Homo sapiens: one gene and its partner. Each later gene encodes a partner of the first gene's protein in a complex. Each region holds a gene or a part of one and is shown on either strand. Other genes may lie near its edges. The genes, in order: DOCK5 and RHOG.

Region 1 (15,445 bases):
GACTGGAAAAAAGCCAAGAATCACTGCATAAGATAATAGCACTTGGATTTTGACAGAGGAAGACACTTTATAGTATTTCTCTATGGGGATCCTAGAGCCAAAAGATTACCCAGATCTGTCAAGTTAGTATTTACGGCCCAAACGCTGTGGTGTTTTCAAGAAGCGTGACTCTTACAAATCATATGAACACAGTGAAGCATTATTGCTTCTAAAAAGCAAAGCACTGGAACACTTTTTTTTTTTTTTGAGATAGGGTTTCTCTTTGTCACCCAGGCTGGAGTGCAGTGGCATAATTATAGCTCACTGCAGCCTTGACCTCCTGGGCTCAAGTGATTCTCCCACCTCAGCCTCCCAAGTAGCTGGGACTACAGGCACGCACCACCATGCCTAGCTAATTTTTTTTTATTTTTTGTAGAGATGGGGCCTCTGTCGCTCCTGCTGGAGTGCAGTAAGATGATCATGGGTAACTGCAGGCTTGACTTCCAGGGCTCAAACGATCCTCCTACCTCAGCCTCCCAAGTAGCTGGGACTATAGACACGCATCACTGTGCCTGGCTAATTTCTTTAAATTTTTTGTGGAAACAGAGTCTTACTCTGTCACTCAGGCTGGAGTGCAGTTGCATGATCAGGGCTTACTGTTGCCTCTACCTCCTGGGCTTAGGCAGTCCTCCTGCCTTGGCCTCCCAAAGTGCTGAGATTATAGGCTTGAGCCACAGCTCCTGGACAGAACACTTTCTTGGGGGAAAAAAAATCGTAAGCATAAGCTCAGGACTAAACAGTGGTGCTAATACAGGTGTGACTGCCCCTTCCCTCTCTCCAACTTGACCCACCACCAGCAGGGATTTTATGAAACACATCTTAAATACCAATTTTCTAAAGTCTCATTTCCTTTATGTGGTGGTTTTCCAACCTTGGTCTAGCATTGGAATAACTTGGGAGGGACTTTAAAGAAATATGGATGCCTGGGATCTTACTCCCCACCCTCAGAAATTCTGATGTAATTGGTCTGGGAATGGCCTCTCCCCAGGTGATACAAACATTCAACCATTTTAGAACCAGTTCCTATCCTTTTCATGTAAGTTATTAGATATCCCCTTTAACCTTTTTATTTCTCTCTTTACCTGTCTAAATATCTATGGGGAATGGGTAAAGAAACAGAACCTATGTACATTAAATGAATTGCTATCAGAAAACTGTCAGCCTAGATAGAAAAAAAAATAGATAGGGTGAAAGGAAGCAAGTGGTTTGTAATTTTTCTTATTTCTGGGCAAAGATGACTCCAGGACCCCACAGTGCAGGTTTAACCTAACAGGACCTGTAAGGAAACAAGCCAGAAAAATGCTAGGTGTGATGTGTCATGAAGGAGGCATGGATAAGGAAAAACTGCCAAGTTCAGGAATGATTTCATCAACTTAAGGGCAATAACAAACTAAACACACAATAAACTTTAAAATACATTTCCATTTTTAATTTAAAAAATAAATAACAGCAAATCTGAACAAAATTTTCCTACTTCAATGCACATCTTCCTAACTGTCCATGTTTGAAATCCAGATAGCAACAAAATCATGGCAAAGGCATTTTTGACAAAGTTTAGACAAACGACTCACAAAATATGGCTAATAGTAGATGAGTTTGGACATCTGATACTGCAGACCAGCCTTGGCTAGATCCTAGGCGTCAGAGTGAAATCATGAATTTCCTTTTGTAGATTAGAATTGATGGTCCAACTCTCAACCCACCAAAGAGAAACTTACCTTTTCCAATTTAATTGTAAAAGCCAGATATATCACTGAATGAAGGTATCTAAGGAAGTGATATTTATCAACTTCCCAAATGATACAGAGAAGGAAAGCATAATTATTAAAATGAACCTAAAGTCTAGATACAGTGGGCCAGGCTGGTGAAGCCTTAGACTACTATGGAAATGACATTGTTTATAAGATGTTGCACAAATTATGGTAATCTGTGTCAATATTTCAATGTGTGCTGGATTATTACTGACATATTCATAATTTTAATGTCCACAAATCTTTTTATCTTAATAGCCAGGGTATGGCAGGGTCAAAGCACCACCTGGGATGATAAATGGGACAAGTATAGTCCATGGACCTCAAAGCCTTTGTACAGAAAACTAGTTTCCTTCAGATCCTCCCCCTCTTTTTGTTTAAATAAAAAGCAGAATAAAAGCAGCTAGGGCTGAAGGAATTCTAAACCTCAGGTAGCTTCAAAATTAAAAAAAAAAAAAGACAGGCCCAGGGACTGACTACAAATTGACTTGTTAAAAGGTGCACAGTCTTTATAGCCTTGTTTTGTGTTGATGGTGGGGTTTTTCTCCCCCTTTCATTATACCTGAGAAGTATGAGAAAGGAAGCCACAAATTTGAAGGGCCTTATAAATACCTTTCACAAAATGGCACCATGGGCATGTGGGAACTTTCTGGGGTGCTGAAAACAGTGTATGTCTCTATCTTAGAGGCACGGATGTGGGCAAATAGCTATGTGAAAATTACCCATCTGCACGGCTAAGATTTGTGCACTTAACTATACATGAGTTCCATCTAAATTTTAAAATAAATTAGCCAGTGACCTAGGGGCAACTAGAGGAGAAGGACTCTTCCAGCTTGGAAAGAGTAAACAAAGGTAGGTTGTTGTCTCAAAGCCTGCTTTATATCTTGTTCTACATTAGGAAATTGCAGTGTGGCTGCAGTTTTTAATGGATTTCCTTGGCAGAAGAAAATGACTGCAATTCTGGAATCAGAGGGTTAAGGTGGAGGAGGAGGAAGCAACTCATGGCCCAGCAGTCTTCTTTAGGGTTTCATTTTCATCTGGTACCACTCCCTTTCCAATCCTACAGCACACCAGAGTGAACTGTCTTTGTATACTGGGGCTGTTTCCATTGAACACACTCAACCACTACATCCCAAGGGGCTAGTACCATGACTGGCATTCCATAAGAACTTGATATATGTTGAATAAAACAATCCTTTAAAAAAAATCTTAAAGCAAGACAAGTCACTAGAACAAAGAAAGAGAGGAAATAAAGATTTAAAAACACCTCCAACCGTATACCAGTATTCACAAAAGTTGTGACAATTTTAGGGATAATTTCAATGTCTTTCAATACTCCAGAGAGTTCTTAGCAAGAAAAATAAAGACCAATTCTTTCTCTTTTTTCCTCCTTGCTCCTTATCTCTTTATATTTAATGGAATCATGAGGTGTTTCTTTGCAGTCATCCTCTGACTTCAGGACACATTATTTATGAATTCTGTCAAATGTGACTCTTCCTACCCAACACCTTCCCTAAAAAATGAACCTTCCATCGTCCGCTGTAATCTCTTAGCCACAATACTACCTGGAATCCCTTTTGTTCAGGCAGGAGAGAGCTATTATTTCCATTAAGGTGGAAAGGGAATCATACGGAATATATTCTATTAAAAAGAGAAGGTATCCAGACAGTGATGTATCCTATCTTCCCAGCCTCTGCTCAAAGACCAGGCTGTGGGACTCATTTCTACTGCTCTGGAAGGATAGCCTTGAGGTTTGGTTTTTTTGGTGACCCAGTTTTATATCTTTCTATTTTAATGGCAGCCCGGCAAGTAGAGTGTGGCACACAAATCCCCTCTAGCCGGTCTGCTGGGTGACTTCTCAGAAGTCGTGCCAGGCTCTAGGTAAGCCCCTACATATCCTGTCTGTTGCCTCCTCCTTTCTCTACAGCTTGAGTTCTCTCCATTTAAAATCCTCTTGAGTTCTTATTAAGTTTGTCTCTAGTCATAAATAATCATGTAAAAGACCTCAAAGGAAACCACCATTTGGAGAAGGGCTGTATGTGCAGAACTAACTTGCACTCACATTCCAAACTACCTTGGAAGAAAAAAAAAGTATGAGTAATGCTCTTAGAGAGTTCCAGTTCCTACTCAGGCCTAGCAGAGGAAAGCAGGGACCATCAGGTGAGTACCTCTTCTTTCCCATATTTCATCTCATTGAAACCTCACAACAACCGATGCAGGAGGCATTATCCCCATTCTGGAAGGTGAGAAAATGAAAACTCAGATAATTTCAAATAATTTTTGTGAGTTTGCAAAGTTAACAGATGTCATAACTGGGATTTGAAACCAAATGGGTTTAATTCCACCAAATGGGTTTAATTCCAAAGCCCATGATTCTTCCATGCTAGCACAATGCAGGTTTTCCTGGGTGGGGGTAAAGGATCACCTTTTCCACACCCCTTCCAGAATCTGCATACTCATTTCTTAAGTAACGCCCTGGACACATCTGAGAGCTTTTGCTTCCCTGACCCTCATGATGAACTGGTGTAGTTCTCTCCTGAAAGGGTGGCGGTGAAACAGGAAACACAGAGAATCAGGCAGGCAAATACCAGCTCTGGCAGCAGAAATGGAAATCTCTTTCTCTGTTCTCTTCACCTCCTTAGTGGAAAGGACTCTGGGCAAGGTTGTGGGAGAGACCACCAGCAAGTTTCCCCCAGTGCTGACCTCTGCCTTCACAGTCAAAAAGCTTTCTGCTTTGCCACAAATATCTAAGTAGCATAGAAATATCTGGGACATTTCAAATATTGTTCCAACCAGGGGTAAATATTAAAGAGTCTGTCAGAGTTGTCTTCTAGAGATTACCTAGGTATAGCCTAATTTAGCAAGCTGGGTTATTAGTAATAATCTGTAGCACAATTTTCTGTGTGTAGCCTCAATTTCCTTATTTACTAAATAAGGGGACTGGTTGGTTGATCTTTGAGGCTTCAAGTCCAAACGTCTAAAACTTCATGTGGCTATTTATGTATGTAATATTTGGTCACCTAAATCGCTCCATTTTTTCTTCTGAAAGGAGTACTACTAGTACCATTAGCAAGCAATCAAATTAATTCCACAATCAAGAGGAATAAATAATCAAAGAGAAATATTGCACTGTATTCTCCAGGATAAAATCAGGTAGCAGATGCGGCTGCTGAGTCACCCAAATGGGTTTTAGAAAAGAAACTGCTGAATCCAGACTGGTAAGTCCCTTGTAGCCAGTGATTTGCGCTCAGAGGAGGTAATAGGACAAAAAAAAAAAAAAAAAAAAAAAGCCGTATGTGCAAAAGGAAGAGCTTCAAAGAAGTCCGTAGGGAAGGAGTGACTGCGACGCAGTGAAGGCCATTAGTCAGGAGTGTGGTGGGAGAGGGAGAGGGCAGCTTTCCTGTGCCACAAGAAGATGGGAGTTGGGTGGACTCAAGAACTCAGGGCTGATGTTTGAGTCCATGCTCTTTCAATGATAGACACACATACCTGAAAGCAGCCAATCTCCATTAAAAATGTGTGTTCTTTTCCTCAAAGGAGATACAATAGACATCAGAAAGATATGATTATTTCAGCTACCAAAGTGTACTTGATATCCATCTCTTCCAAGATGCAATATGGGATGGGATCAGTGTGTCCACGTGAGAAAAGTACCTAAGTCTCAAGCACAGCTTTTCATAAGCAAAGCAAAAAATCCTTCCAAGGAGTAGATTACAGGGGTTGCTCCACCATCAATATGGAAGAACTTGTCCAGGCTTGTGCAGACCACCATGTCTCTGCCGTACAGGCTGACATTTAACAATGGTGAAGGCAATCTCTTCTTGGAAAAAATCAGAGGCTGTGACTGATTCTGGAATTCCATGTGGACTGGAAGGGAGGTGGCATGGCCTCAAAATTCTATCAAAGAGAAGCTTTTGGAAGAACATGACTGGTTTTGGGCTGGTAAACATCATCCCAGATCAGGAAATGCAGTCAGCAGGGAGCCCCATGGAATGAGGACACCGGCTGGAGGCCAGTTCTCAGGCAGCAGCTGTCTAAGGCACTCGGTGTTGCAGGGAGGGCAAGATCCTTACTGGGATCCAGGCTCGGAAGTAGGGATGCCAGACTTCCGAGCCTTTGGAGGTGGAGGGGGTGGTGCTTTGGCTTCTCTTCGGACAGGCAGTGGGGGAGCGAGCTGCAGAAGCAGAAACACAAAATTAGAAGCAGGTCTTAGCTTTCTTCCCAATTCTGCCTTCTCCTCCTATTTCTCATATTCTGCTTTAGCTTCTAATTGATCTGAGTTTATCTACACAGGCTTTGCAAAGTGAAATGGAAAACTACACTGACTTATCCTCCTTGTTTCCCATGAGCTAATCAGACACACGCGTGCGTGCGTGCGTGCGTGCGCGCGCGCGCACACACACACACACACACACACACACACACACATTTTCTCTCTCTCTCTCGCTGCCATATCCCCAACACTTGGGTTCCTGGCGTATAGACAGGAGGCACTTAAAAGTCATTTGTTAAATGACTGAAGGAAACCCATCTGAGGTCACTCCAGAATGACTGTCCTTTATTCAGAAGAAGTAAACTCTTCAAATGTGAAATAGAGGGCTGGGGGCAGGCAGTGGCTCACATCTGTAATCTCAGCACTTTGGAAGGCTGAGGTGGGTGGGGGGGATCACTTGAGGCCAGGAGTTTGAGATCAGCCTGGGCAATATGGAGAGACCCCATTTCAACAAAAGATTAAAAAATTAGCTGGGCATGGTGGCACATGCCTGTAGTCCCAGCTAATTGAGAGGCCAAGGTAGGAGAATCACTTGAGCCCAGGAGTTTGAGGCTGCAGTGAGCTATGATCGCACTATTGCACTCCAGCCTGGGTGACAGAGCCAGACCCTGCCCCCGCCCCCCTAAAAAGGTGAACTAGAACTCACGGCTTATTTCACAGGTACCCAGGACGAGGTACAGAGAACACCTGCCTCTACCTTCATCATCTGCTTGCATGTCTGTCCTTCCCATTGAAAACTTCTCTATCTCCTGTGGTTTCAGGAATGAGCCAAGAATCGACTGCAGTGACAGGTCTATGAGCAAACCTGCCCACTAAAGAGCCTGGAAAACCTGATGCTGCCTTCCCAGGAGTGGCGCTCCCTGGCCACAGTTGCCAGCTGTGATTTCCCTACCTCAGTGGAGTTCCTCTGGCTGCCTTCATAGGGCTTGCTTTTGGGGGGAGGTGGAGGTGGGACAGGAGTGGCCGCGATTCCATCTGTCTGCAACGATGGGGAGCCTAGAAATGACAGAAAGTGCAGGCGGCAGAGAGAGGCACTGAGCAAGGAAGCTCATGGAAATGTTGCTGGCACTGTAACACCTAAGCCAACCTGGTCAACCAACTGATGAAAGCCACATTCTATGGTTTCTGCGGATAGAACGAAGAAGACTTCTTACCCCACATCACACAGGTGACGCCCTCGCCAGAAGTTTCAAGAGCTCCACAAGGTGTTCTGAAGCAAAAACTTTATTTTTTTTATTTTTGTTTTTTTGAGATGGAGTCTCGCTCTGTTGCCCAGGCTGGAGTGCAGTGGCGCGATCTCAGCTCACTGCAAGCTCCGCCTCCCGGGTTCACGCCATTCTCCTGCCTCAGCCTCCCAGGTAGCTGGGACTACAGGCACCCACCATCACGCCCAGCTAATTTTTTGTATTTTTTAGTACAGATGGGGTTTCACTGTAGCCAGGATGATCTCGATCTCCTGACCTCGTGATTCACCTGCCTCGGCCTCCCAAAGTGCTGGGATTACAGGCGTGAGCTACCGTGCCTGGCCAAAACTTTTTTTGTTCAGGGTTTTAGTATTAAGCTGAAGATGACAACATTTTCTGGAATGTATGGTATTATTCTGTTCTCTGATATAGCCCAAGTGCTTAGGAAAATATCCACTTCCTCCAGGAAACTGTAACTGATTATCTCTAACTCTTGGTTGACAATTGTCTCCCATCTGGCTCGATAGATTTATCCCTCTACCATGCCTCTGGACTATGGGTACTTTGCAATTCTTCTCAAGTGTTGTGCACTGCTGGTTCCCCAAGCCAGACTATAAGCAGTAGATGGAATGGGTCTATTTCTTGTCCCTGTTCAGGTCTACCTAACTAATGGTTAGCTTGTAAGTTACTTGTTATCTGTCTAGTCCTAGTGCAGATCTGCCTCATTTATACCTTCACAATTATAAAACTGACACTAATGCCCTTTGGATCACTATCCAGAAAAGTTTAATGAGTCCTAGTGGCCTCCTTGCCAAACTCCAGTCTAACTGTATAATACACGAACACGAAATTGAACCAGTTTTACAATGGTCTTACATACATTCTGGCTGGTTTAGTTACAAACTGCCCAGATGCATAAACATACTCCATTCCCTAGTAAAAAGACTATAAGGAATACAGGAAAACTTACTTAGGGTCCTGGTGGCTTTGGGAGTGAGTGGAGGTGGGCTCAAGGGTGTTGACTGAGGAGGTGAAGAACCGTGAAATGGTGATAGCCGATTATCCATCAACTGGAGACTCTTTGGCCTTTGTGCTTTTCTGGTTGGGCTCTAGGACCAGAGAGAAAAAGCAAAACATTTTCACGGTGAGGAAGGCTGAGCTCAACAATGCTCTCAACAGCCTTGTCTTCTGAGAAGACACTTGGAAAAGGACTTAACTGAAGGAGCGATTTTTAAGCATTGTCATATGATGGGCAACACCGAACAGGCACTGACTAGAACCACTGAACCACAGATTATTTTCTGAATGGCCACAGACTTGATTCTTCTGATCACAGTTGGGCTGTGTCATTTATGTTGGAAATAAGCCACCCTGATTCTCAGGAAAAGGTGGTCTTGCCACATTTAACAACTTGATATGGAAGGAAAAGTACCTTTTAAAAAAATTAAAGAAGAGAAATGACAATGTTTGGATTGACTCAGGGGACAGAGTGGCAAGAACGACAGCTCTAAGCATCAACCCACATGTTTACATTGTGGGTACAAGATCTTCACCAATGTTGATTTATAGACTCGAACTTCTCATGAGGTATGTGCTTTCCTTACCACAATCTGCGACCTGACACTAACCCAGGCTGCTGAGTCCTGAAACAAGCCATAGCCCAGCTTCAATCTGGGAGGGGATGGTGATATGCCTGGGTACAGGGGAGAGGGGGGCAAGCCTCCAGAGATTTCTTTTTTTCTTTTCTGTTTTTTACCATCAAATCGGGTTCTGGTGCTTTCTCTGCAATGACCTGGGACTTGCTCAGACTCCAGTCTTTTCTCTTAAACTTGCTGATCCGGTTCTCGCTGTTCTCCTCTCTAAGGGACAGATCTTCAACTCTGGCACCTGACGAGGCCCTGCGCTCCAAAAGTGGCTCCAAGATTGAGCTATTGGCCAGGAACAAGGACAAACATCACAAATACTGATCACCTTGCAATCAAAATTCACTATGAAAGTACCAGCAGTTATGACTCTTTAGGCTATTTTTTTTTTTTTTTTTTTTTTGAGACAGGGTCTTTCTCCCATCATTCAGGCTGGAGTGCAGTGGTGCGATCACATCTCACTATAACCTTGACTTCTGAGTGGCTGGGACTACAGGTGTGTACCACCATGCCCAGCTAAAGTTTGTATTGTTTTAGTAGGGATGGGGTTTCACCATGTTGCCCAGGCTGGTCTCAAACTGTTGCCCAGGCTGTCTCAAACTCCTGGGCTCAAGTGATGCTCCTACCTCAGCCCTCCCAAAGTGCTAAGGCTAGAGGCGTGAGCCACCATGCCCGGCCTCCTCAACCTACTCTTGACCTATGACTTCACTCTCAGATTCTAAATCTAAATTTTCAATTACAACTGAACAAACATCTCAAGGTGTTAATGTACAGAAACAAGACCATCAGACGACTGGACGAAAATATTAGGGAGTATCTTATCCCAGGAAGTGAAGGGCTTAATTCAATGTACAGGCAAAGACAGAATCTTTAAAGTAAGAGATTCAATAGACAGTTTTATGTAGTGGGTAAGAGCACAACTCTGGAGCCAGATAGCCTGTGTTCAAATCCTACCCACAAACTACATACTACTAGAATGTAGTAATCTAGATTACTATATACTACTAGAATGTAATCTAGATTCTAGAAGTAATCTAGAATCTAGATTACTACATTCTAGAAATAATCCCACCACTTCTAAGAATGCATCCTAATAAGAAAGCTACATGTCCAAATATGTTTGCTATAGTTTTTAATAAAAATATATTTTATACTGATACAAGTTACATACATATTTTTGTATTAAAATCTATAATGAAGTTTTATGGTTAATTGTTTAGAAAGAAGGATACAGCTTAAATATTCTATAGTAGAAGAATAATTAATCATGGCATATTTGTATGATGCAATGTCAACTGCCATCAAAAATGATGGTAAAAGCTGATAGTAATAAAGATTACACAGCCAGGCACGGTGGCTCACGCCTGTAATCCCAGCACTTTGAGAGGCCGAGGTGGGCGGATCATGAGGTCAGGAGTTAGAGACCAGCCTGGCCAATACGGTGAAACCTCGTCTCTACTAAGAATATAAAACTTCACCAGGCGTGGTGGTGGGCGCCTGTAGTCCCAGCTACTCAAGAGGCTAAGGCAGGAGAATAGCTTGAACCCAGGAGGCAGAGGTTGCAGCGAGCCGAGATTGCACCACTGCACTCCAGCCTGGGCGACACAACGAGACTCTGTCTCAAAAAAAAATACATAAATAAAAATTACACAGCAACATGACAAATGCTTATAATAAAAAGGTAAGAAAGAACAGCAAAGTACCAAACTATATGCTATAATTGGAGCTATGTAAATATACCTATATCAACGGAAAAGAATGCATAATTTAAGAAACACTACATATTTGATTTCCAGGCAGGGTGGCATTCAGGTAGGTTATTTTTATGATGTAATTATTGTATTATGGAATTAAACATTTGTGAAAAAATGGTGAGTCAACTGATAACTTATATTCAAGACTATTTTAAATACTTAATGATGCATAAATGCTCATCACCTATATTAAATTAAGCAGTAGGTCACAACATGATAGATGCAATGCTTTTCCACTTGTATAAAAAATAAACAGGGCCAGGTGTGGTGGCTCACGCCTGTAATCCCAGCACTTTGGGAAGCTGAGGCGGGCGAATCACGAGGTCAGGAGATCGACACCATCCTGGCTAACATGGTGAAACCCCATCTCTACTAAAAGTACAAAAAATTAGTCGGGCATGGTGGCGGGCGCCTGTAGTCTCAGCTACTCGGGAGACTGAGGCAGGAGAATGGCGTGAACCCGGGAGGCGGAGCTTGCGGTGAGCCGAGATCGCACCACTGCACTCCAGCCTGGGTGACAGAGCCAGACTCCATCTCAAAGAAATAAAAATAAAAAATAAAAAATAAACATACTTTTTTGATATTATATACCTGAGCTTTAACGGTGGTTATCTTTGAGTGATGAAGTAATAAAGCATTGTTTTCTTTTAAACCTTTCCTGTATTTTAGCAATATATTATTTAAATATATTGCTAGGCAGAAAGAACACAACTATAACTCCTTTCAAATATTTTAAATTTGAACATATGGAAAGGCATTTTATGTTTCTGGCAAGGAAGCCTCAGCATCAAAAAGCCATCACTCTTCCTAAAGTTAGTCCATACATTTAACATGATCCTAATAAAAATAGCAATAGGATTCTAGACAAGTTAATCTAACAGTGAGCAATAGCGACACTAGCCAGATTAAATTCTGAAAAGGAATATTAGGAAATAAAAAATGTTTTATATCTATAATAATTAAGATTGCATAGTACTGATACATGAATAGACAGGTAAATCTAAGAAATAGAAAAAAAATGTCCACAGACTAAAGAGTATGTGGAAATTTGATTTTTTATAAGATTGACATTTCAAAAAAAACAAAAAGATGACTTGTTCACTAAATGTTATAAGAAGAATTGAGTAGCCATTTGGAAATAAAAATGTTGGCTCCATACTTAACATCTTATATTAGAATAAATTCTAAAGGATTACAGACAAAATTGTAAATAGTGAAACCCTAAAAGTCAATGAAAAAAAAAAAGTACCTTTTTTGTTATCTTAGAGTGGGAAAGGCCTTTAATTGTGAAATAAAACCCAGAAGTCATAAAATAAAAGATTGATTATATAACTACATAAAAAAATCAGCACAACTCAATAAAAAATTAGAAGCAACAAATTAGAAGTCAAAAGATAAAGGAGAAATTAGGAGAAAACATTTCAACTCATTTCACAGACAAAGGGCCAACAATTCAACAGAAAAAAGTATTTGACCACAGGTCACAGAAAATAAAACTACAAACAAATGAAAAGATGTTCAACTTCAGGCAAAACAAGAAAAATAAACAAAAACCAAAAAACAAACAAAAAGTATACAAGAAAATATTTTCCACCTATCAGATTGGTAAAATTTAAAAAGACTAAGAGTACAGTTTGGTGGCTAGGGTGAGTAACTAGGCACTCCTGTGTGTTGCTGGTGGGAGTGTAAACTGGTATAATCTTTATGGAAGTCGGTTTAGGAATAATTTTCAAAATTGCAAATATACATCTTTGACAGAGCAATTTCACATACGAGATTTTTCCCATATTGATATAGTTGTATATGTACAAAATAACATGTGTTTAAGGTTATTCATTGTCACACTGAAGTAACAGTAATAGAGTGAAAGCAACTGAATAACCACCAGTAAGCACTGGTAGAATATACAGGTTGAATATCCCCAATCCCAAAATCCAAAATCCAAAATGCTCCAAAATGTGAAATATTTGAATGCTGACATGACGCTCAAAGGAAATGCTTACTGGAACATTTCAGATTTGGGGTTTTTGGATTAGGGATGCTGAACAGGTATAACGCAAATATCCAAAAATACTAAAACATCCGAAATTCAAAACACTTCGGGCCCCAAGCATTTTGGATGAGGGATACTCAATCTGTATCATGCCACATACATACAATGAGCCATATCTATAGCTACAGAAAGCATAAAGAGGGGGCTTTTTATGTTCTGAAATGGAAAGAGTTTCAAGATATAATATTAAATGAAAAAAAGCAAAGTAAAGAAAATTCTACCATTCATATAAAAAAAGTGTGGGGAAGAACACATAATTACGCAATGCTTGTGAACCTATAAAGAGCTGCCATGGGGCTACCAAGAACCTGAATGTTAGCATCATCTGGCTCTAGGGGTGGGGCTACTGCAGGGCTTCTACTGTAGTGGGAAGTCTCAGATTAAAGGGAGATTTTTTGTGATATATCGTTTGGTTCTTTTGGAATTTCATGCCATGTGATTATAAAACCTATTCATAAAATAGATGTAAAAATTTATTTTTTAAAATGGAAATGATGAAAAAAATAGGTAATGACTATAGGTATGTAATAGTGTGGTAGGATTATGGGTGATTTCTTTGTCATTTTTCATTTTTAGTAACTGTTGTTATTATTCTGCTAATCATGACATTCCTCATGAGGAAGACAATGAGAATGACCCAAAGGCTATTTTTCTCAAAGGAGTGATGCGTGGCTAAAGGCAAACATTAGTAAGGCGTTACCCCACCCTTCCTGCAGATTAAAGATGAAACCCTTACCCATCAGATCCCGGTCTGGAAGGAGCATTGTCAGACGAGTTTGAAGAGGTGGAAACCACAGAGGAAGTGACTGAGGTGATGGACAACCTCCGCAGAGTGGAAGACATGATGTAGGGGAGCACAATAGACCCCGTGCGGCTTTGCTTCCTCTCCGTCAAGTTGGGTGGCTGAAAACATATGACTCCACATGGTTAGCGGACCTGGAATCCAGCCCCTATGAACTGGCCACAGCTGCCCTGTTTGCTTGTGGCTAACCAGTACCCATCTGTACTGGTTATGTGGCTGGCACCCCATTCTGATTGGTTGGTGCCTGTGCTGCCTCTATTGTTAAATATTGCATGTACTGATACTGTTAGCTATAGGTACAACTTAGGTTAAACCTCCCTGATGCTAAGACTAGAGAAAAAGTTGTCATAATTTTCTGCTACCTAAATGAGACAGGAAAAAATTAAGATGTGCCTCACACTCTCCAATAAATAGCAAAACCTTCCGTCTGCTTCCCCAGCTCAGCTGCTTTCAGTCTTTTAAAATATGGAATATTGGGGTTAGAGAAAATTGTTAGATTGACACTGTAGACATGCAGCTTAACCTGGTGAATCCTATGTTCTCTAGAAATGTCACCAGTAGGATTACCCCCAGATGCCACCATATGAAAATGACTCACTAATACCGGCCAAGTTCTAATAATGACTAAGCTCATTAAATCGAAGACAGTCTTTGCTGTCTAGGAATGTGTGTGCAAAAGACAAATGCTCCTAGAAAAACTCTTAAGTAGCAGCAGGTTAGGAGGCACAATCTTAGGAAGAAGGCACGACTGAACACTTAATGGCTGAAAGACACGCTCAAAAAGATACCCTGGAGGAAACTGTACTGAAGGTGGGCAGACAGGAATGGGGGAGAAAAGAGCATGAAAAGAAACTCAGAGCTTTGGTTTGAGGAAATAATGTGAAAATAAGGGGTTTAAGAATAAGACCATTAAAGGGCTGGGCATGCTGGTTCACACCTGTAATCCCAGCATTTTGGGAGGCTGAGGCAGGAGGATTGCTTGAGTCCAGGAGTTGGAGGCCAGCCTGGGCAACATAGGGAGACTCTATCTCTACAAAAAAGTTTTAAAAATTAGCTGGGTGTGGGCCGGGCGCGGTGGCTCACACCTGTAATCCCAGCACTTTGGGAGGCCGAGGCAGGCGGATCACAAGGTCAGGAGATTGAGACCATTCCGGCTAACATGGTGAAACCTCGTCTCTACTAAAAATGCAAAAAAATAGCTGGGCATGGTGGCGGGCACATGTAGTCCCAGCTACTCAGGAGGCTGAGGCAGGAGAATGGTGTGAACCTGGGAGGCAGAGCTTGCAGTGAGCTGAGATCGTGCCACTGCACTCCAGCCTGGGCGACAGAGCGAGACTCTGTCTCAAAAAACAAACAAAAAAAAATTAGCTGGGTGTGGTGGAGCACACCTGTAGTTCCAGCTACTCAGGAAGCTGAGGTGGGAGGATGGCTTGAGCCTGGGAAGTCAAGGCTGCAGTGAGCTGTGATCTCGCACTGCACTTCAGCCTGGGTGACAAAGAGAGATCCTGTCTCAAAAACAAAAACAAAACAAAACAAAAAGAATAAGACCATTAAAGAGAACAGGATGAATTCAAAGAAAAAAATGCAGATAAGTAGAGCTAGAACGTATTACACCATCACTCACTGGAGAGAAAAGGTTAGTACATACACGCACTATCCACTGAACTGCTCAGGAGGAGAAAAGAAAATTGTAGCTGTGAGGAGCTCGTCAAAAACAATTATGAAAGCAGCTACATGCATATGAAATGTAATTCACAATTCCTTCTTCCCTTCAAAGGCGTGAAAACTGTATACTTTTCATCAAAATAGATACTATTTCTAAGATTAGGAAAAAATGTAAGAATTTGGCCAGACAGCACAAGAATAACCAGTGTCTAGGATTCAGAAAACTTTGAGTTATTTTGGTTTGTTTGTTTGTTTGTTTTGAGATAGAGTCTCGCTCTGTC
Region 2 (15,445 bases), on another chromosome or scaffold:
ATGTGACTTCCTTTCCCTGACTGTCTCCCACAACCAGGGCCTGCTCCCTGAGAGGGGGCAGCCCTGTTTTAAACACAACCAAATCCCTGAGTATTCCTTATCCCTGGCTCCACCCAAGCACCATCAACACTAGCCCATTTTCTCCATTTCACTTGCTATACTGCAAGGCTGCACCCTGGTCTGGGAACCCCTTACCCCCCCAGCCTGGGCTCTCACCACTGGTTCAGAAGCTTCAAAAATCAATGACAAGTGGGGAAGAAAATCCCCACTGGGAAGTGGAAAAGAAACTTTCGTCATGTGGGGGCTGCAAAGGACCCAGGGCTTGGTCCCACCTCCCTCCCAGGCTACAGTTTGCCTTGGAATCAGCTGGGAGAGGAATGGTTTCACTCTATGAAGTTGTGTCTCTGGTTCACATTAAAAAATATTTCCATCCTATTTGCATGAATGAGAGAGAGTGTGTGTGTGTGTTTGTGCGCGTGCACGTGTGCATGCAACGTCAGGACATTCAGATAGAGACCCTCAGACAGTGGGTCAGGGAAGGGCATAAGGACCCTCTAGGCCAGTGGAGAGTCAAATAGAGACCTCAGACTGGAAGTTGAGAGACCTAAGTTCTAACCCCAGCTCTGCTGACTCACTATAACCAAGCATGAGGCATTTACGCTTGCTGGGCCTCAGTTTTCCTATCCAGGAATTAGAGATTAAAATGGTTGTTACAAGAGCACTAGGTGGATGAACTAAGACTTAAAGCTCCTTGGAGGCAGGGGGCATTATTTGTGCCCAGCGGATTACGTGGGAAGCCTTGACATTCAAAGCAGAACTCCTGGGCCTGTAATCTTCAGTTCCACACAGAGCAGGAGAGTGGGTGTTGACAGTATGACTGAAAAGCCCAGCACTGGGCTGGCCCAGGCAGGAAGGCAAGGAGGGAACTCCGGCTGGCTGTCACAAGGCCCAAGAGACTGGAAGTACAGCTCTCTAAAGAGGTGGTTATCAACTAGCAATCAGTAAATCAGCTCTCAAAGGAGAGGGGAAGGACAGCGTAGCTTCCGGGCTGGGAAGGGAACGAGGACCGACACTGGAAAAGGATGATGAGTATGGTAGTGTCCAGAAACAAGCAGAGCAAAGGCAGTGTGGTATAGGGCCAAGAGTACTGGATACCTGACTCTGATGTCTTGAGTTTATCTGCCGACCTTGACCCTTGATAAAAAAGCCCTCATATGGTATAAGCCTTTATAGGTCACATGTTATTATGTCATTTGACCTTTATAACAACCTGTTAGTACTATGCCTATTCTACAGATGAGGAAACAAATTCAGAACAGTAAAAGTAACTCAACATCACACAGCTAGTTAGTGTGGGAGCCAGAACACAAACCCAGTTTTGTGACCCAAAGTCCTGTGTTTTCCTTGGTGCATCATACAGTCTTCAAGTTACCCCTTACCAGCTAACTGTGTGACCTTGATCAGGTAAGTTACTGCCCTTCCTGGAGCCTCTGTTTCTTTATCTGTACAGTAGAAGTAATAATAGTACCCCTCCCAGCCTCAAGGGCAGCATCAAGGAACCTGACCATGGGAATGAATACACTTTGTAAACTGAAGTGCTGTACACACAGGAGGTGACAGGAGCAAAGCCTTTCATCCCAGAAGGCAGGAAGCACTGAGTATGCCTGTATCTGTGGTAGGGGATCAGCCCAGTCCTCCCTACTCAGGTCTAGTTCAGACCTTTATCCTCTCTCCCAAAACAACTCTTCTTTCTGAAATCCTCTGGCCTGAACTGGGTTGAATAAGTTACCATAGCCCATTTCAGGAGGGCATATAGAGTCTAAACTGTGCCAAACAGGAAGAAGGGATGTCAGTGCTGCAGGACACCAAACCAGGAGTGTGACCTATCTGGAGCGGGGTTCAACAATGACTTATTCACTAAGTGGCTTTTTCAAAAGAATCATTAAGCCCAGCTCAGTGGTGCACCTGCAGTCCCAGCTACTAGGGAGGCTGGGCCCAGGAGTGAAGGGTTGTAGTGTGTACACTAGTCAAGGTTATCGTCCCTGTGAGTAGCCACTGCACTCCAGCCTGAGCAACACAGCAAGACCCCATGTCTCAAAAAAAAAAAAAGTTATTTAGTAAATCAATGGTTGCCAATCTGTTTTGTTTTGTTTTTTCTTTTGGAGCAAGGTCTTGTTCTGTTGCCCAGGCTGAAATGCAGTGGTGCCATCACAGCTCACTGTAGTCTCAACCTCCCAGGCTCAAGGCATCCTACCTCAGCCTCCTGAGTAGCTGGGACTACAGGCAGGCACCACCACACCTGGCTAATTTTTGTATTTTTAATGCATCTTTTTGTTTGTTTGTAGAGACAGGGTCTTGCCATGTTGCCCAGGCTGGTCTTGAACTCCTGGTCTCAAGTGATCCTCCTGACTAGCCCTCCCAAAGTGCTGGGATTATGGGCGTGGGCCACCATGCCTGGCCAGATCTGTATGTTATTAGACAAATTACAATGACTTATTCTGGCTTTTTAGTCCCAATTCAGATCATGCCTGGTCCCTCATACTGGCATTCAGAGTTCTTCACAATTTGATAAGGGATATTAGAGTTACGTAGACTTGGGTTTGAATCCTAGTTCTGCCTCTTACCAGCTGTGTGACCCTGAGCTTCTGATGATTTGCCTCTCTAAGCTTCAATTTCCTTATCTTTCAAATGCAGTGGCAACGTACAGTACCTACCACATAGCACTGTTATAAGGACTAAGTGCATTAATGTATAATATGTGCACAATGTAGGTACTTTGCAAGTGTGAGTTCCCAGCTCCCTGTTCCAGAGGGATTTTCAATGTCCTCTGCAAACAAGCCAGGATCATTCTTGCCTCTGAACTTTTACTCTTTGTTTTTCCCTCTGCTGCCATTCCCTCTCCCTTCTCTAATCTTCCTTACTCCTTAAGGCCTAACTTAAGTCTCACAGTTGCATAAGGTTACTGAATTCTTCTTTGGATATCCATTGCATGGCTACCTGTCGCCCAGGTTAGAGTGCAGTGTCGCGATCTCAGCTCACTGCAATCTCCACCTCCCGGGTTCAAGTGATTCTCCTGCCTCAGCCTCCTGAGTTATTGGGATTACATGCATGTGCCATCATGCCCAGCTAATTTTTGTATTTTTAGTAGAGACAGGATTTCATCATGTTGGCCAGGCTGGTCTTGAACACCTGGCCTCAAGTGATCCACCTGCCTTGGCCTCTGAAAGTGCTGGGATTACAGGAGTAAGCCACTGCACCCATGGCCACCCCTTTTAACCCTGCTTTGGCTCTGTGTGATTCTCCTTTTCCAACAGTCATACGTAAGTTTCCCAGCTGTACATGCCCTTCAGTACTGAAGCCTTGGCTTCTCTGGACTAAATGACAAAAAAAAACCTCTAAGTATAGGGCTAGGCACACAGGACTGTACAACCATTGCCTTTTGATCTGCTTGTACCAGCCCTCATCACTGAGATATGGAGAGACTTCTCTGAAGCCCAGTATCGGACACTCCCTGCCCACCCCCCAACAGACAAGACTGCAATGCTGAATCTCATCGGACAGCAATGACAGGCAAAAGCTATGCCTGAAATAGGCAAAAATCTCTCTTCCCAGTACCAGGCTGACCTGGCTCCGGCAGGAAGTATAGCCCATGGGGGTCTAACCCTATCTGAATGTGGTCCCTGGAGCCCGGCTTGTACCCAGTGGGGCCTGGCCTTGGGGTGTGGCCCAGGCAGGCCCAGAATGGGGGAGGGAAAGGAAGCAGCCTGATTGCCAGATCTCTGTGGCTGTTACAGCAGGGGAAGTGTCCCAACTGGGAGTGGGGGAGGGGAGGAACGGACTCTTAAAAGATAGGCGAGTATGGAGGTGATGGGAACTTACCTCAGCCTTCTATAACCTGCCTCCCTAACATGGGGCTCCCTTTCTGCAGCCCTCCCTGAACCTCATTATAACTACAATCCATCTCTGGCCATTCCAATCCTGATCCTCTACAAAGGGGCCTCCATATTCTCTTCCGTAAAATACACCAAGTAGTAATATGGAACCATGCACCATTGCTGCCTCTTCCAGGAAAGCGTAAATTATCCAAGTCAGAAGTGACTTATCCTATCCAAAGTCTGGTCCCTGTCTCTCTCACAGGCTTGGAGAGGCTGATGTGAATCTTATCTCTTGTTATTAGAATGGGAGTGTCTAGAGGGCAAGGTCCTGGTTGACTGGACCTTGCTGAGCACCCTAAGCTGAGCACACCATGTAGTAGCTGTCAGTAAATGACTGAATGAAGTCGATGCAATCATGTCTTTGCATATGGGAGTTCCTCTTCCTGGAATGCGACTCACCCCCCTTCAGATCCTTCCTGTCCTTCAGGCCCAGTACTGTTCCCCAGCTTCTCCAGGACATCACAGCAACCCCCTCTTCTGCCTTACCTTTCCCAGCATTGACCGTACTTTTCATTGTGCTGAACTAACTGGATGCTTCAGGGGGAGGGTAGTCTGACCTTCTGTTTATTTCCAGAAGCCCAGGGAAGGGCTGAGCAAAAGCTGTAGAATGACATACCCCTCCTCCCCCATCAATCCACAGACTCTGATGCTGGGAACAAGGAAGAACCTCTAGGACCAGAAGACACAAGACATAAGTAACCAACTTCTTTCTCATTCACCCTGAAGAGCCCAAAGTTGGGGTAATAAACACATAAGCTATACTGTCTTGTCTTCAACTGGAAGGGTGAGAGGTGAAGCTGGCAGATCTAGCTCAGAGATGATGAGGAAGATGGGAAGGAAAAGTGGTCCCGACAGGCTACAGACTGGGAATATCCGAGGACCCTTGGTCAAAGACATGGCAAGGGACAGGGGCACTGTTGGAAACACTTCCAAAGCTCTACAAGTTTGTTTGTTTGTTTGTTTTGAAGGGAGGAATAGAGGAGAGGTGATATAAAGAGGCTCAAAGGGGCTGCAGCTGGCTGCAGCTGGGCTGGGAGGAGGAAGCTGGGGGAGACATGAGGTCAGTGTGGGACTGGGACCAGGCCAAGGGCTGAGTCTCTTTCTTCCCTTTCTCCCCATCAGCAGGGAAGAACCCAAGAGAGCCCAGTTCCTAGCCTTAAAAAAAAAAAAAAAATCCCCCGGGTGCCGTGGCTCACGTCTGTAATCCCAGCACTTTGGGAGGCCAAGGCAGGCAGACCACTTGAGATCAGGAGTTCGAAACCAGCCTGGCCAACATGGTGAAACCCCGTCTCTACTAAAAATACAAAAATTAGCTGGGCGTAGTGGTGGGATTACGCCTGTAATCCCAGCTACTCAGGAGGCTGAGGGAGGACAATCACTTGAACCCAGGAGGCAGAGGTTGCAGTGAGCAGAGATCATGCTACTGCATTCCAGCCTGGGCCACAGAGCAAGACTCCATCTCCAAAAAAAAAAAAAAAAGAAAGAAAAAATCCATGCTGGAGGACTCTCCACCTCTTGTCATTCATCCTTCAGCCTTTGGAGAGGATCCTACATTGCAGCAGCAGGTAGGAAAAGAGAAGAGTTGATGCCACCCACTAGGAAACGAGACAGTGGTAGCTGGGAAGGCTGGGGGCAGTCTAGGACCCTTTCACTAAGTCCTAGTTCCCAACCTTCTTCCCTCACTGTCCCAGCACCCTAAGTGTTCCATAAAAGGTGAGCCTCAGCTGGGCATGGTGGCTCACATCTGTAATCCCAGCACTTTGGGAGGCTGAGGCTGGCAGATCACTTGAGGTCAGGAATTCGAGACCAGCCTGGCCAGCATGGTGAAACCCCATCTCTACTAAAAAATACAAAAAAAATTAGCTGGGCCTGGTGGTGCATGCCGGTAGTCCCCGCTACCTGGGAGGCTGACACAGGAGAATGGCTTGAACCCGGGAGGTGGAGGTTGTGGTGAGCTGAGATCGCGCCATTGCACTCCAGCCTGGGTGACAGAGCAAGACTCCATCTCAAAAAAAAAAAAAAAAAAAAAAAAAAAAAGCTGAGCCTCAGGACCAGGACAGCTCTGGCTGGGGGAGCCAAGGAAGCTGCCCCCTCCCCCACGCAGCACAGAGGAAGGGTGCACACTGGCTTCCTCCTCCCCGCCTAGCAGCAGCTCAGCAGTCCCTGGGCCCCACCAAAGGCCTGTGAAGTGGCACTTCCTTTGCCTTTGCTAATTTCACATGAGGCTGTACAGAAGTGCCATCCTGCAAATCCTGGCACCCCCACCTGAAAATACCCACAGAGAGACCCAGGGCTGCCCAGTCCCTTTAGCCCCGCCCGAGGCCTGAGGGGGTTTCCACAAGGGAAAATAACACCAGGGAGGAAACTCCGGCATCTATTTTCCACTGTCAGTGAGGCAGAGCTGGAGTAGGAGACAGGGTACTCCCCCATCTTACTACCCCCTGGCAAAATCCCCAACATTCTCTGCCTTCTTATCTCTCAAGCTCTAACAGTCCTTGTGCTTGGGGAAAGGGCAGTACTATCCCTGGACAGATATGTATGTACAGACTACTCGGACCTGTCAAATTGAGGCTGGTAAGACACAAGGGCCCAGAGTGAGGGGCACTGCTATGAGCAGTCTCTTGGGGGAGGAAGAGTCAGAGCCATGATGTTCACTGTTGCCTTTGGAGGTACTGATATGCAACTCCTTAATGCTAAAATAGAGCCAAGAGAAACCAAGTTGACCAGGTAGCAAATCTACGACAAGGATCCGGATCTTCTAGCCTCCACCCTTATGCTACTTCTACAAAGGAGAGAAGGTGAGGATTCTAACTCTGGCCTGAGAATGGGCCATCTCTTTAACCTCATTCAGGAGAACGCTACCATGGTTTATTCCTTCAGAAAATGGGCCAAAGGGTGGGTTGACTTACATCTGAGCCTTTTTGCTTCCAAGTTCCCAGGCTCTCATGCCTAGCCCATCCTGGTGCATTCATGATTTAGCACTGACATTACTCAATAGCCAGCCACTCTGGCCCTGCCCTAGCTGAGAAGCTCCTCCTCTGGCCTCTAGCTCCTGGAGAGATGCCCTCCCCCCATATGAGATGAGGACAAAAGAGGAAGCTGGACCCTGGACAGGAAAACCAGTCTGATCTGGGGAGGTGGCCCAGGCTTTGTCTTTGGTTTCCCTCCTCAGCTCTTGTCACGGACCCCTACTGACCTCACCACTAATGGGTCTACAGTATATAGAAGGAGTCTTCAGTGTGGGCCTGAGCCCCCTTCTTCATGTCACAACCTTGACCATACCTGTTTAGCCAAGACTTCAGCGGCAGCCTCCTAGGTTGTAGCCACCACCTCCCTTTACCCCCCAATATTTTCCCATTAAAATCTCTCCCGCCCTGGTCACATTTTTTCCAATGATGCCTTTTTTGCAATTAGCTCAAACTTCCAATGGGGCCAGATCTCACCTGGGAGAATCCCTGTCTCACCCATCTTGTCTTTACCATCAGAGCCCTGTGGGTTTGCTCAGTTACGCAGAATACTAAAGTAACTACTGGTTTGCCAGCCTAGGAACTGGGACTCCTGGGGTTTTTATTAAGCTGTGATGCTGGGAAAGTGCCTTGTATGCACATCCTTCTCTAACCTGGGCTCTTATGTAGGTCCCTGGGATTTCTTCCCGGACCCAAACTTCTGTACCTCCAAGAAATGGGAAGAGAGACAAGTGGTTGGAAGGGCAGGACTGGAAGAAGAACAATTCATGGGAGAGGGACGACTGTGACATGGGAAGATGACAGAATGGGGAACAGGGAGAGCCCTTAAATTTAGCTGTAGCACTTACTCCCCTCTACTTCTCTTTTTTTCTAGTGGAGAGAAATGAATACAGATGACTAGAGGAGGTAGACAGGAGCAAGATCCTCAGATGCACCCCAAAAGCTTGAGGATGGAGCTCTAGAGTGGAAACAAGAGCCTCCATAGCCAGGATGGACTGAAGTTAAATTTGGGAGGAATTCCTGAGAAGGAATAGGGTCCTAGGTGAGATGGGGAGTATTAAGGATGCCTGAAGGCAGAGGGGTCAGTAGAACTCCAGAGGGCTTCCTGGTCACTAAGGCCCTGATGCAGATCAGGGCATGCGGGTACCCAGCCTAGGCAGGCCCCAGAAGGTAGCAGGAAAGGAGCAGACACTTTTGCCTCCGCCGCTTCTTAAGTCCGAAGTTAGACCAGCTGCAGTCTTTCCTCCAGAATCCTGCATTTGCCTCCTCCCTTTATTTCCATCACACCCAAGCTGGTCCCATTCTTTCCACCAGGTGATGCTGGAACTAGTAGGTAATGGAGTCAGGGACCTTCAGGCTGTCTTCCGGCTTCTAGGCCTGGCCTCTTGGTCAAGCACCACGGGTTGGGGTGATTTTGATTTCCCACGGCCTCTCTTACAAGTCTTATTCCTGTGTCACCCTACCCTGACTGCTACAAACGGCTTCCTCCTGCCTAACCACAACCTCACTCACTGCAGGTTCCCTTCATTCTGCTGGCTTCCCTTGCTCTGGGCCCTCTCAAGGCTGAGGGCAGTTATTTTGTCTGTAAGAGATAAAGATGTAGTCACACAGACACGCGCGCGCGAACACACACACACACACACACACACACACACACACACACAGGCTTTCCATCTCTTTAATCCATCTCTAAGAGATGAAGATGTAGATACACAGACACGCGCGTGCGAACACACACGCAAACACACACACACACACACACACACACAGGCTTTCCAGCTCTTTAATCCGTCTCTATCACTGGGAGGCTGCAGACTGCCTCTCCAAGCTAGGGAGGTTTGAAAAGACTCTAGAACTCACTAAGTCTTCAACAACTGATTCCAAAGCTGGAGATAAGTGGGTGGGAGGGAAGGATACAGAGAGGGTGACAGGCTGAGGGTTCAAAAGGAATGAGGGGTGATGGAAGAAACCAGGAGGTGCATGTGTGTGGGTGCCAGAGCTGGGAAGGGAAGGGATGGGGCAGGTTGCAGAGGACCAAGACGAACATGGGGCAGGGTAGGTGAAGACAGGTCAAGGCCTAGGTATGACCGTATGTTTGGAGGAAAAGAGACTGGAAGGGATGAGAAGAGAGTGATGGCGGATTTGTGGGTAGAAACTAAAGAAGGTGTGGAGGGAGACGACAGGAGCATGTGTATAATTCAGGGACTAAGAATGAAGAGGAACACTAGGAGATGGTTCTCAATTGTCCCCAAAAGACACAACAAAAACTTGTCAGGGACTATCAGTACCTCTGAATGAGAGTCCTTCCACTTCCAGTTACAGGGCAAGACCAAGTTACTCCCAAAAGAGCAAGGCCAGGCTCTGGTCAGCTAGGAACAGCGTCTGCTCACTAAATACCTACTGCTTGGCTCCAGGTAAGGTCGGGACTCAGGAAAACAGACATACAGACAACGACTGGGGTCGGCGGGGCTCCCCCACCCAACCCGGGTCCTCCTGAGTGCAGAGGGCCTTGGGGCTGCAGACCGAGTGTGGGTCTGTATTAGCATCCATCTGACAGGGAGAGAGCTTTCGGAGGCCCCAGACACCGCCCCTCTCACCCCAAGTGTCACAACTGCCAGAGCAGAGGGAGCGCCTTTTCCAGCCCAGAAGCCCTCTCCCCTCACGCACTTCTCAACACCCCCCCCACCAACTTCTGAGGACACCCCACCTGCGTCCGATCTCCCAGCTCTGAGCTCTTCCACTTCAGAGACACTTATCTTGGAGCCCGGGACCCTCCGACCTCAGGGGTCCCTCTCGGCTCCCTAGAGGCGGTACAGCCGCCGGGAAGCCACCCTCGCCGAGCCTCCGCCGGCTCGCAGTGGCCCCGTTCCCGCCCCGCCCGGCCGGCCGCGCCCGCCCTACTTGGACTGAACCGAGAAGCTCCCGCCCGCGGCCTCCGCCAGCAAACTCATGAGCCGGCGCCCGCGCCGAGTCCTGGGCCGGCCGGGCTCTCCTCCCCCGGACCCCTACCCGCCAGCCCCGGCCGGGCCTCACCTGGTGCCCTCCCCGAGGCGGGGGAGCTGGGGGCGGCGGCAGCGGCTCCGGGCTCGAGAAGGAAGTGAGAGCGGGAGGCCGGAGGAAGTGGGGGGGGCGGGCCGGCGAGGCGGGGCGGGCCGGGGCGGGGCCCGACCAGGAAGTCCGAGGGCCGATCTCCCCCTCTCCAGCCCCGGCCCGCCCCCAGCCTCGCCCCCGGCCCAGTCCCGGGCTTGCCACGTTCCCCTCCCAGTCCGCTGCCCCTGCGGTCAGTAAGTCAGGCCTCCCAAGGTCAAGTCTCTCCGCCTCCTCCTGGCCACCCTACCCCTGGAGGCCCTACCCTGGGCGCTAGGCGTTCGTCCTCTTCCCCCCATCCCGCCCCCACCAGCCTCCGCGGGAAGATGCTGAGAAAGGCGCCCCTGGGCCTGGTCCCTTCAGTCAACCCCAGGGATAGAGTGGTGGCCGAGGCTGGGGCAGTCCCCGCCCCTGCCCTGAGCCCCGGGGGAGTGCGAGGTGGTGGTGATTCAGCAGTGGGAAGGCCCCAGACCCCTGGGGAGGGTGGGGAGACTCGGGGGGAAGAGGAGCTGGCGTCAGCACCCAAGGGAAAGACAAGATCAGCAGAGGCGCAGGCGGAGCCGCGGGCCCCAAAAACAGGATGTCGAGTCGTCATTCAGCACCGTGCAGCCCTGCGAGGCCTGGCTCTGGGGAGGGGGCGGGGCGGACGGAGGACTTGGGGCTTCCCTCGCCCCCTCGCCCCCTGTTCTGCTGGGGCGCGCAGCTGCTTGGGGCTGAAGAGCCGCACCCAGGCCTGAGGTCCAGCTTGGGCCCCGGCGACCCGCGGGTGGGCGGGCTCATGGGCGCCCTCTGGTGCTTCGCTCCCTGGCTTTGCGCTCGGAGCTTTGACTTGAGAATCCATATCCTTCGTTCAGCACAAAGTTTCTGAGCGCCTACCACGTGGAGAGAGCTAAGTGCTAGGTGCTGTGAAGAAACACAGCGTTTAAGACAGGATCCCTGTCTTCCAGAAGCTTTTCAAATAAACGGATTGATTCCAGGAATAAATAGCTTAACCTTTCTGAGCCTCAAATCTGTCTTTGGTAAAATAGAATAATTATATTTCACCCCGTAGTTTTGAAGATAACATGAGAATGGGTGTAAAAGACCTGTTGTCAATGCGTATCTCAAACACTAAACAAATATCTTTTAAAAATATCATACCCTAAGAGTCTGGCGCGGTGGCGTCTGCCTGTAATTACAGAGATGGTGAAACCTTGTCTCTATAAACACAAACACACACATATTTTTTGACAGTCTCACGATGTCACCCAGGCTGGGGTGCAGTGGCACGATCTCGGCTCACTGCAATCTCTGCCTCCCAGGTTCATGCAGTTATCCTGCCTCAGTCTCTCGAGTAGCTGGGGTTACAGGTGCATGTCACCACACCCGGCTAATTTTCGTATTTCTAGTAGGGACGGGGTTTCACCCTGTTGGCCACGCTGGTCTCGAACTACTGATCTCAGTTGATCCACCTGCCTTGGCCTCCCAAAGTGCTGAGATTACAGGCGTCAGCCACCACACCCAGCCTACTTATATTTTTAAAAAAATAAATAGGAACCACGTAAGTAATTTAAAACTGTCTATTAATGACATTTCAAAAAAAGTAAAAAGAAACGAAATGAATTTTAACTATATTTGACTTAGCCATAGCCAAAGTATTATCTTTTTTTTTTTTTTTTTTTTTTTTTTGGAGATGGAGTCTCGCTCTGTCACCAGGCTGGACTGCAGTGGCGCGGTCTCTGCTCACTGCAACCTCCGCCTCCTGGGTTCAAATGATTCTCCTGCCTCAGTCTCCCAAGTAGCTGGGATTACAGGCACGTGCCACCATGCCTGGCTTATATTTGTATTTTTAATGGAGATAGGATTTCACCATGTTGGCCAGGCTGGTCTTGAACTCCTCACCTCGTGATCTGCCCGCCTCAACCTCCCAAAGTGCTGGGATTACAGGCATGAGCCACTGCGCCCGGCCTCAAAATATTATCTTTTAGCATGGTAATCAACATAAAAATTACTGGTTATAAAAATTAACTGGATATTTTGCATTCTTTTCTTGTACCAAGTCTTTGAAATGCGGTGTGTATTTTATACTTACAATTTGTCTCAATTTGGCTGGAAACATTTCAAGTGGTCAATAGCATGTGTAGCTGGTGGCTACTGTATCATCCTCAAAAACAGAGGCTTTATCAGATTCAGGCTGGTGAATGACTGTGTGGATGAAGTCTTTCTCAAAGATCCTTCTCTAGAAGCCTCCCCTGACCTGCCAGGCAGTGTTTGGGTCTCTTGTCTCCTCTTCGGTCTGGTCCCTGTAGCCCTTCAGACAAACTCCTCTTTGTGGAGGACATGAGAGCAGGAGGCACAAGGGGAAATTCTCATTCCCATCCATACACCATTGGGACCACTTGACATTGGGGTGCTTGGTATTTCATGAATAAAGAAAGGATTGTGAGCCCCAGAAATGACAGGGTTCAGAGGAACACCATACGCTAAAGCAGCTTCTATGACGCCATTAAAGATTATGTCCCAGCACAAAAGTTTTTTCTGGTTTGTTTGTTGTTTTTTTTTAGATGGGACTCTCACTATGTTGCCTAGGCTGTCCTGGAACTCCTGGGCTCGAGTCATCCTCCCACCTCAGCCTTTCAAGTAGCTAGGACTACAGGCACACACCACCACATCCAGCTCCAGAAGAAATGTTTCTGATATGTGTTCCTAGAATTCCCTTCCCAGGACTTAAGAACAGGAAAAACAGTGGAGCTATGGACTCTCTCCCCTTCAACCAGAGAAGGTTTGCTTTTTATCTGATTTATTTACTAGTATTCTGCATAGAGAGTTTAATTTTGTTTTTAAGTTTCCTGCAAAAAATATTTGAAAATCAATTTAAGGACATAGTGATAAGAGTAGGGAGCACATTAGGTGCTGCAGATTGAAAGACTGGATTGGCAGCCTGGGATCAGATTGCATTTCCTGAGCCTGTAAGTGTCTTGGGCTTGCCTAGCCCTGGTTTAGGAGGGAGAACCTGATCCAGCCTCAAAGATCTCATGGTCTGATGAAGTATAGGACTTTGCATATGAAGCTATCAGAAGAGGAGGAAAAAGTCCAAGGCTGGGCTTTAGAAAACCTTCAAGTCTGGCCTGGCACAATGGCTCACGCCTGTAATCTTAGCACTTTGGGAGGCTGAGGCAGGCGGATCATGGGGTCAGAAGATCGAGACTATCCTGGCCAACATGGTGAAACCCCGTCTCTACTAAAAATACAAAAATTAGCTGGGTGTGATGGTGCATGGCTGTAACCCCAGCTACTCGGGAGGCTGAGGCAGGAGAATCACTTGAACCTAGGAGGCGGAGGTTGCAGTGAGCCGAAATCGCGCCACTGCACTTCAGCTTGGCGACGGAGCGAGACTCCATCTCAAAAAACAAAAAACAAAAAAAAAAAAACCACAAACAAACTTGAAGTCTGTCTTGGCTCAGACAGACAGATTGAGATTTTAGGCTAGGCCCCACCCTTCTCTGTCTCAAACTCTTCCACTGGAAAACAGAGGTTGAACTAGATGATACCTTTGAGCTCTCATCTTCTATGATACACTCTTCAGAATAATAATTAAGGTTTATGCATATAGCATGTTGCTCATAGTTCTTTAATACCATTTAGGTCATCATGCTTTGTGCTCTAGTAAATTGCATCTGTGCCTAATATCTGTCTCCCCCACTGACTATAAGTCCTTTGAGGTTGCGTCTGATTCATTTCTGTGTCCACCCACTGGGCCTGACAGAGGCAGGCCTGAGCACACATTTGCCTTCACTAAACATCCATAATGTTAAATTGCTTTAATAAAGTACTAATATGTGTAGAACAATCAGACTCCAGGTAACTTGGAAACACTTTTGTGGCACAGGTATGGGAAGGGCCAGAGGAAAGGGAAGCAGGTGGACAGGTGGAGCTGTCCGTAAAGGCTTCTTGAAGGAGGAGAAATGCTGACTTGAAGAGGGTAGGAAGAGGGCACAATCCCAAATGGGCTGTTTCTTTTTTCTACTCTCTCACTAGCTTTCCCTGAATAGGTGAGTTCTTGGTAGGTGGTGTGCATGTATGCTTACAAGCAGCTGAGAGACAAGGACATTGAACCTGGACATTTAGAAGTGAGATAATATGAAAGCACTTGGTGGGGTAGAATAGAGATCACAGACAGGTTTTGGAGACAGATTAGGATGGTTGTAACACAGTATGGCCTTTGATTAGTCATATGAGATCTCCCATATTCATAAATATTCAATGTATATTTATTGAAAATCTTCTTGGTGCCAGACATAGTGTTACATGCCAATCATGAAGTAGAGAAAACTGCCCTGATATAACTGGTAAGGGAGATAGACCTTAAACAGGTAATCATACAAAAGTAGAGTGCTGCTGGGCATGGTGGTGTTTGTCTCCAGTTCTAGTTCCTCAGGGGGATAAGGCAGGAAGATTGCTTGAGCCCAAGAGTTTCAGACCAGCCTGGGCAACATAGCAAGAACATTTCTCCAGAAAAAAAAGTACAGAATACTGTAAGAGCATATAACAGAGCCAACTTCTCAGTCTTAGTTTCATTTTAAAATGGGAATGGCTGGGCGTGGTGGCTCATGCCTCTATTCCTAGCACTTTGAGAGGCCAAGGTGGGACAATCACTTGAGCCCAGGAATTTGTAACCAGCCTAGGCAATCATAGCAAGACCCCATCTGCATACACACACAAAAATTAGCTGGGCATAGTGGCACATGCCTGTAGTCCCAGTTACTTGCTAGGCTGAGGTGGGAGGATCACTTGAGTCTAGGTGTTTGAGGTTGCAGAGAGCTATGATCATGCCACTGCACTACAGTCTGGGTGACAGAGTGAGATCCTGTCTCTAAAAACTAACAAATAAAAAACAATAAAATGGGACTGGCAAGTGCTGCATGAGATTGTGAGTATTAAACGACATAATGCATGTGGAGCCCTCGTAAATTGCCCTAGGGTACAGCAAATAAACATTAGTTAATTTCTCCACACTCCCTTGATGTTTTCAGGTATCCCCCCGCCCTTGGTTAATTCTTCCCTCTCTCTCAATGTCAAAATGCTAAAGCTGACTAGTTTCCCTGAGAGAGGAGGGGACAGAGAGTGAGAGGAGAAAGGCCCTGAACTGATCTCACCAGTGCCCTGAGGATTCCAAAGGGGTCTTCCCAGCCTATTCCTCACTGAACTCCAGCTCCAGGAGCTCACCAGTGATCCACAGGGGTCTTGGCTTAGCCCCAGTCCCAGCCCCTTTAGGTTACCCTTAAATCTGAATTCTCTTTTGCCTCTGCTGTGGCTCCAGGGGACTCAGCCTTCTTGGGGCTCCTCTTGATCCTTTGGTCTTCCCTCTCTCAGCCAGCCTCAGGAGTAGAACACAGTTTCCTCTTCATTATTTCTTTTTTTTTTTTGAGACAGAGTCACCCAGGCTGGAGTGCTGTGGCACGATCTCTGCTCACTGCA

The links.
Region 2: the proteins of DOCK5 (region 1) and RHOG are in contact, whole or in part, in a cryo-EM structure (PDB 8XM7), measured with the Homo sapiens proteins. Residues at the interface, in NP_079216.4 of Homo sapiens: Val232, Phe345, Asn393, His394, Lys395, Gly396, Trp400; in NP_001656.2 of Homo sapiens: Ala121, Pro123, Leu126, Arg127, Arg128, Lys130.

The regions. Positions count from the first base shown.
Region 1 is NC_000008.11:25,401,713-25,417,157, reverse strand, and holds the end of DOCK5 (dedicator of cytokinesis protein 5), read right to left. Parts: intron 13,601-15,445; coding exon 13,434-13,600; intron 9,176-13,433; coding exon 9,004-9,175; intron 8,357-9,003; coding exon 8,218-8,356; intron 7,060-8,217; coding exon 6,956-7,059; intron 5,965-6,955; coding exon 5,860-5,964; 3' UTR 1,447-5,859; downstream 1-1,446. UniProt on the Homo sapiens protein: Guanine nucleotide exchange factor (GEF) for Rho and Rac. GEF proteins activate small GTPases by exchanging bound GDP for free GTP. Along with DOCK1, mediates CRK/CRKL regulation of epithelial and endothelial cell spreading and migration on type IV collagen.
Region 2 is NC_000011.10:3,830,960-3,846,404, forward strand, and holds the start of RHOG (rho-related GTP-binding protein RhoG), read right to left. Parts: upstream 10,001-15,445; 5' UTR 9,935-10,000; exon of another isoform or gene 9,609-9,934; intron 7,317-9,608; exon of another isoform or gene 7,108-7,316; intron 6,734-7,107; exon of another isoform or gene 6,318-6,733; intron 1-6,317.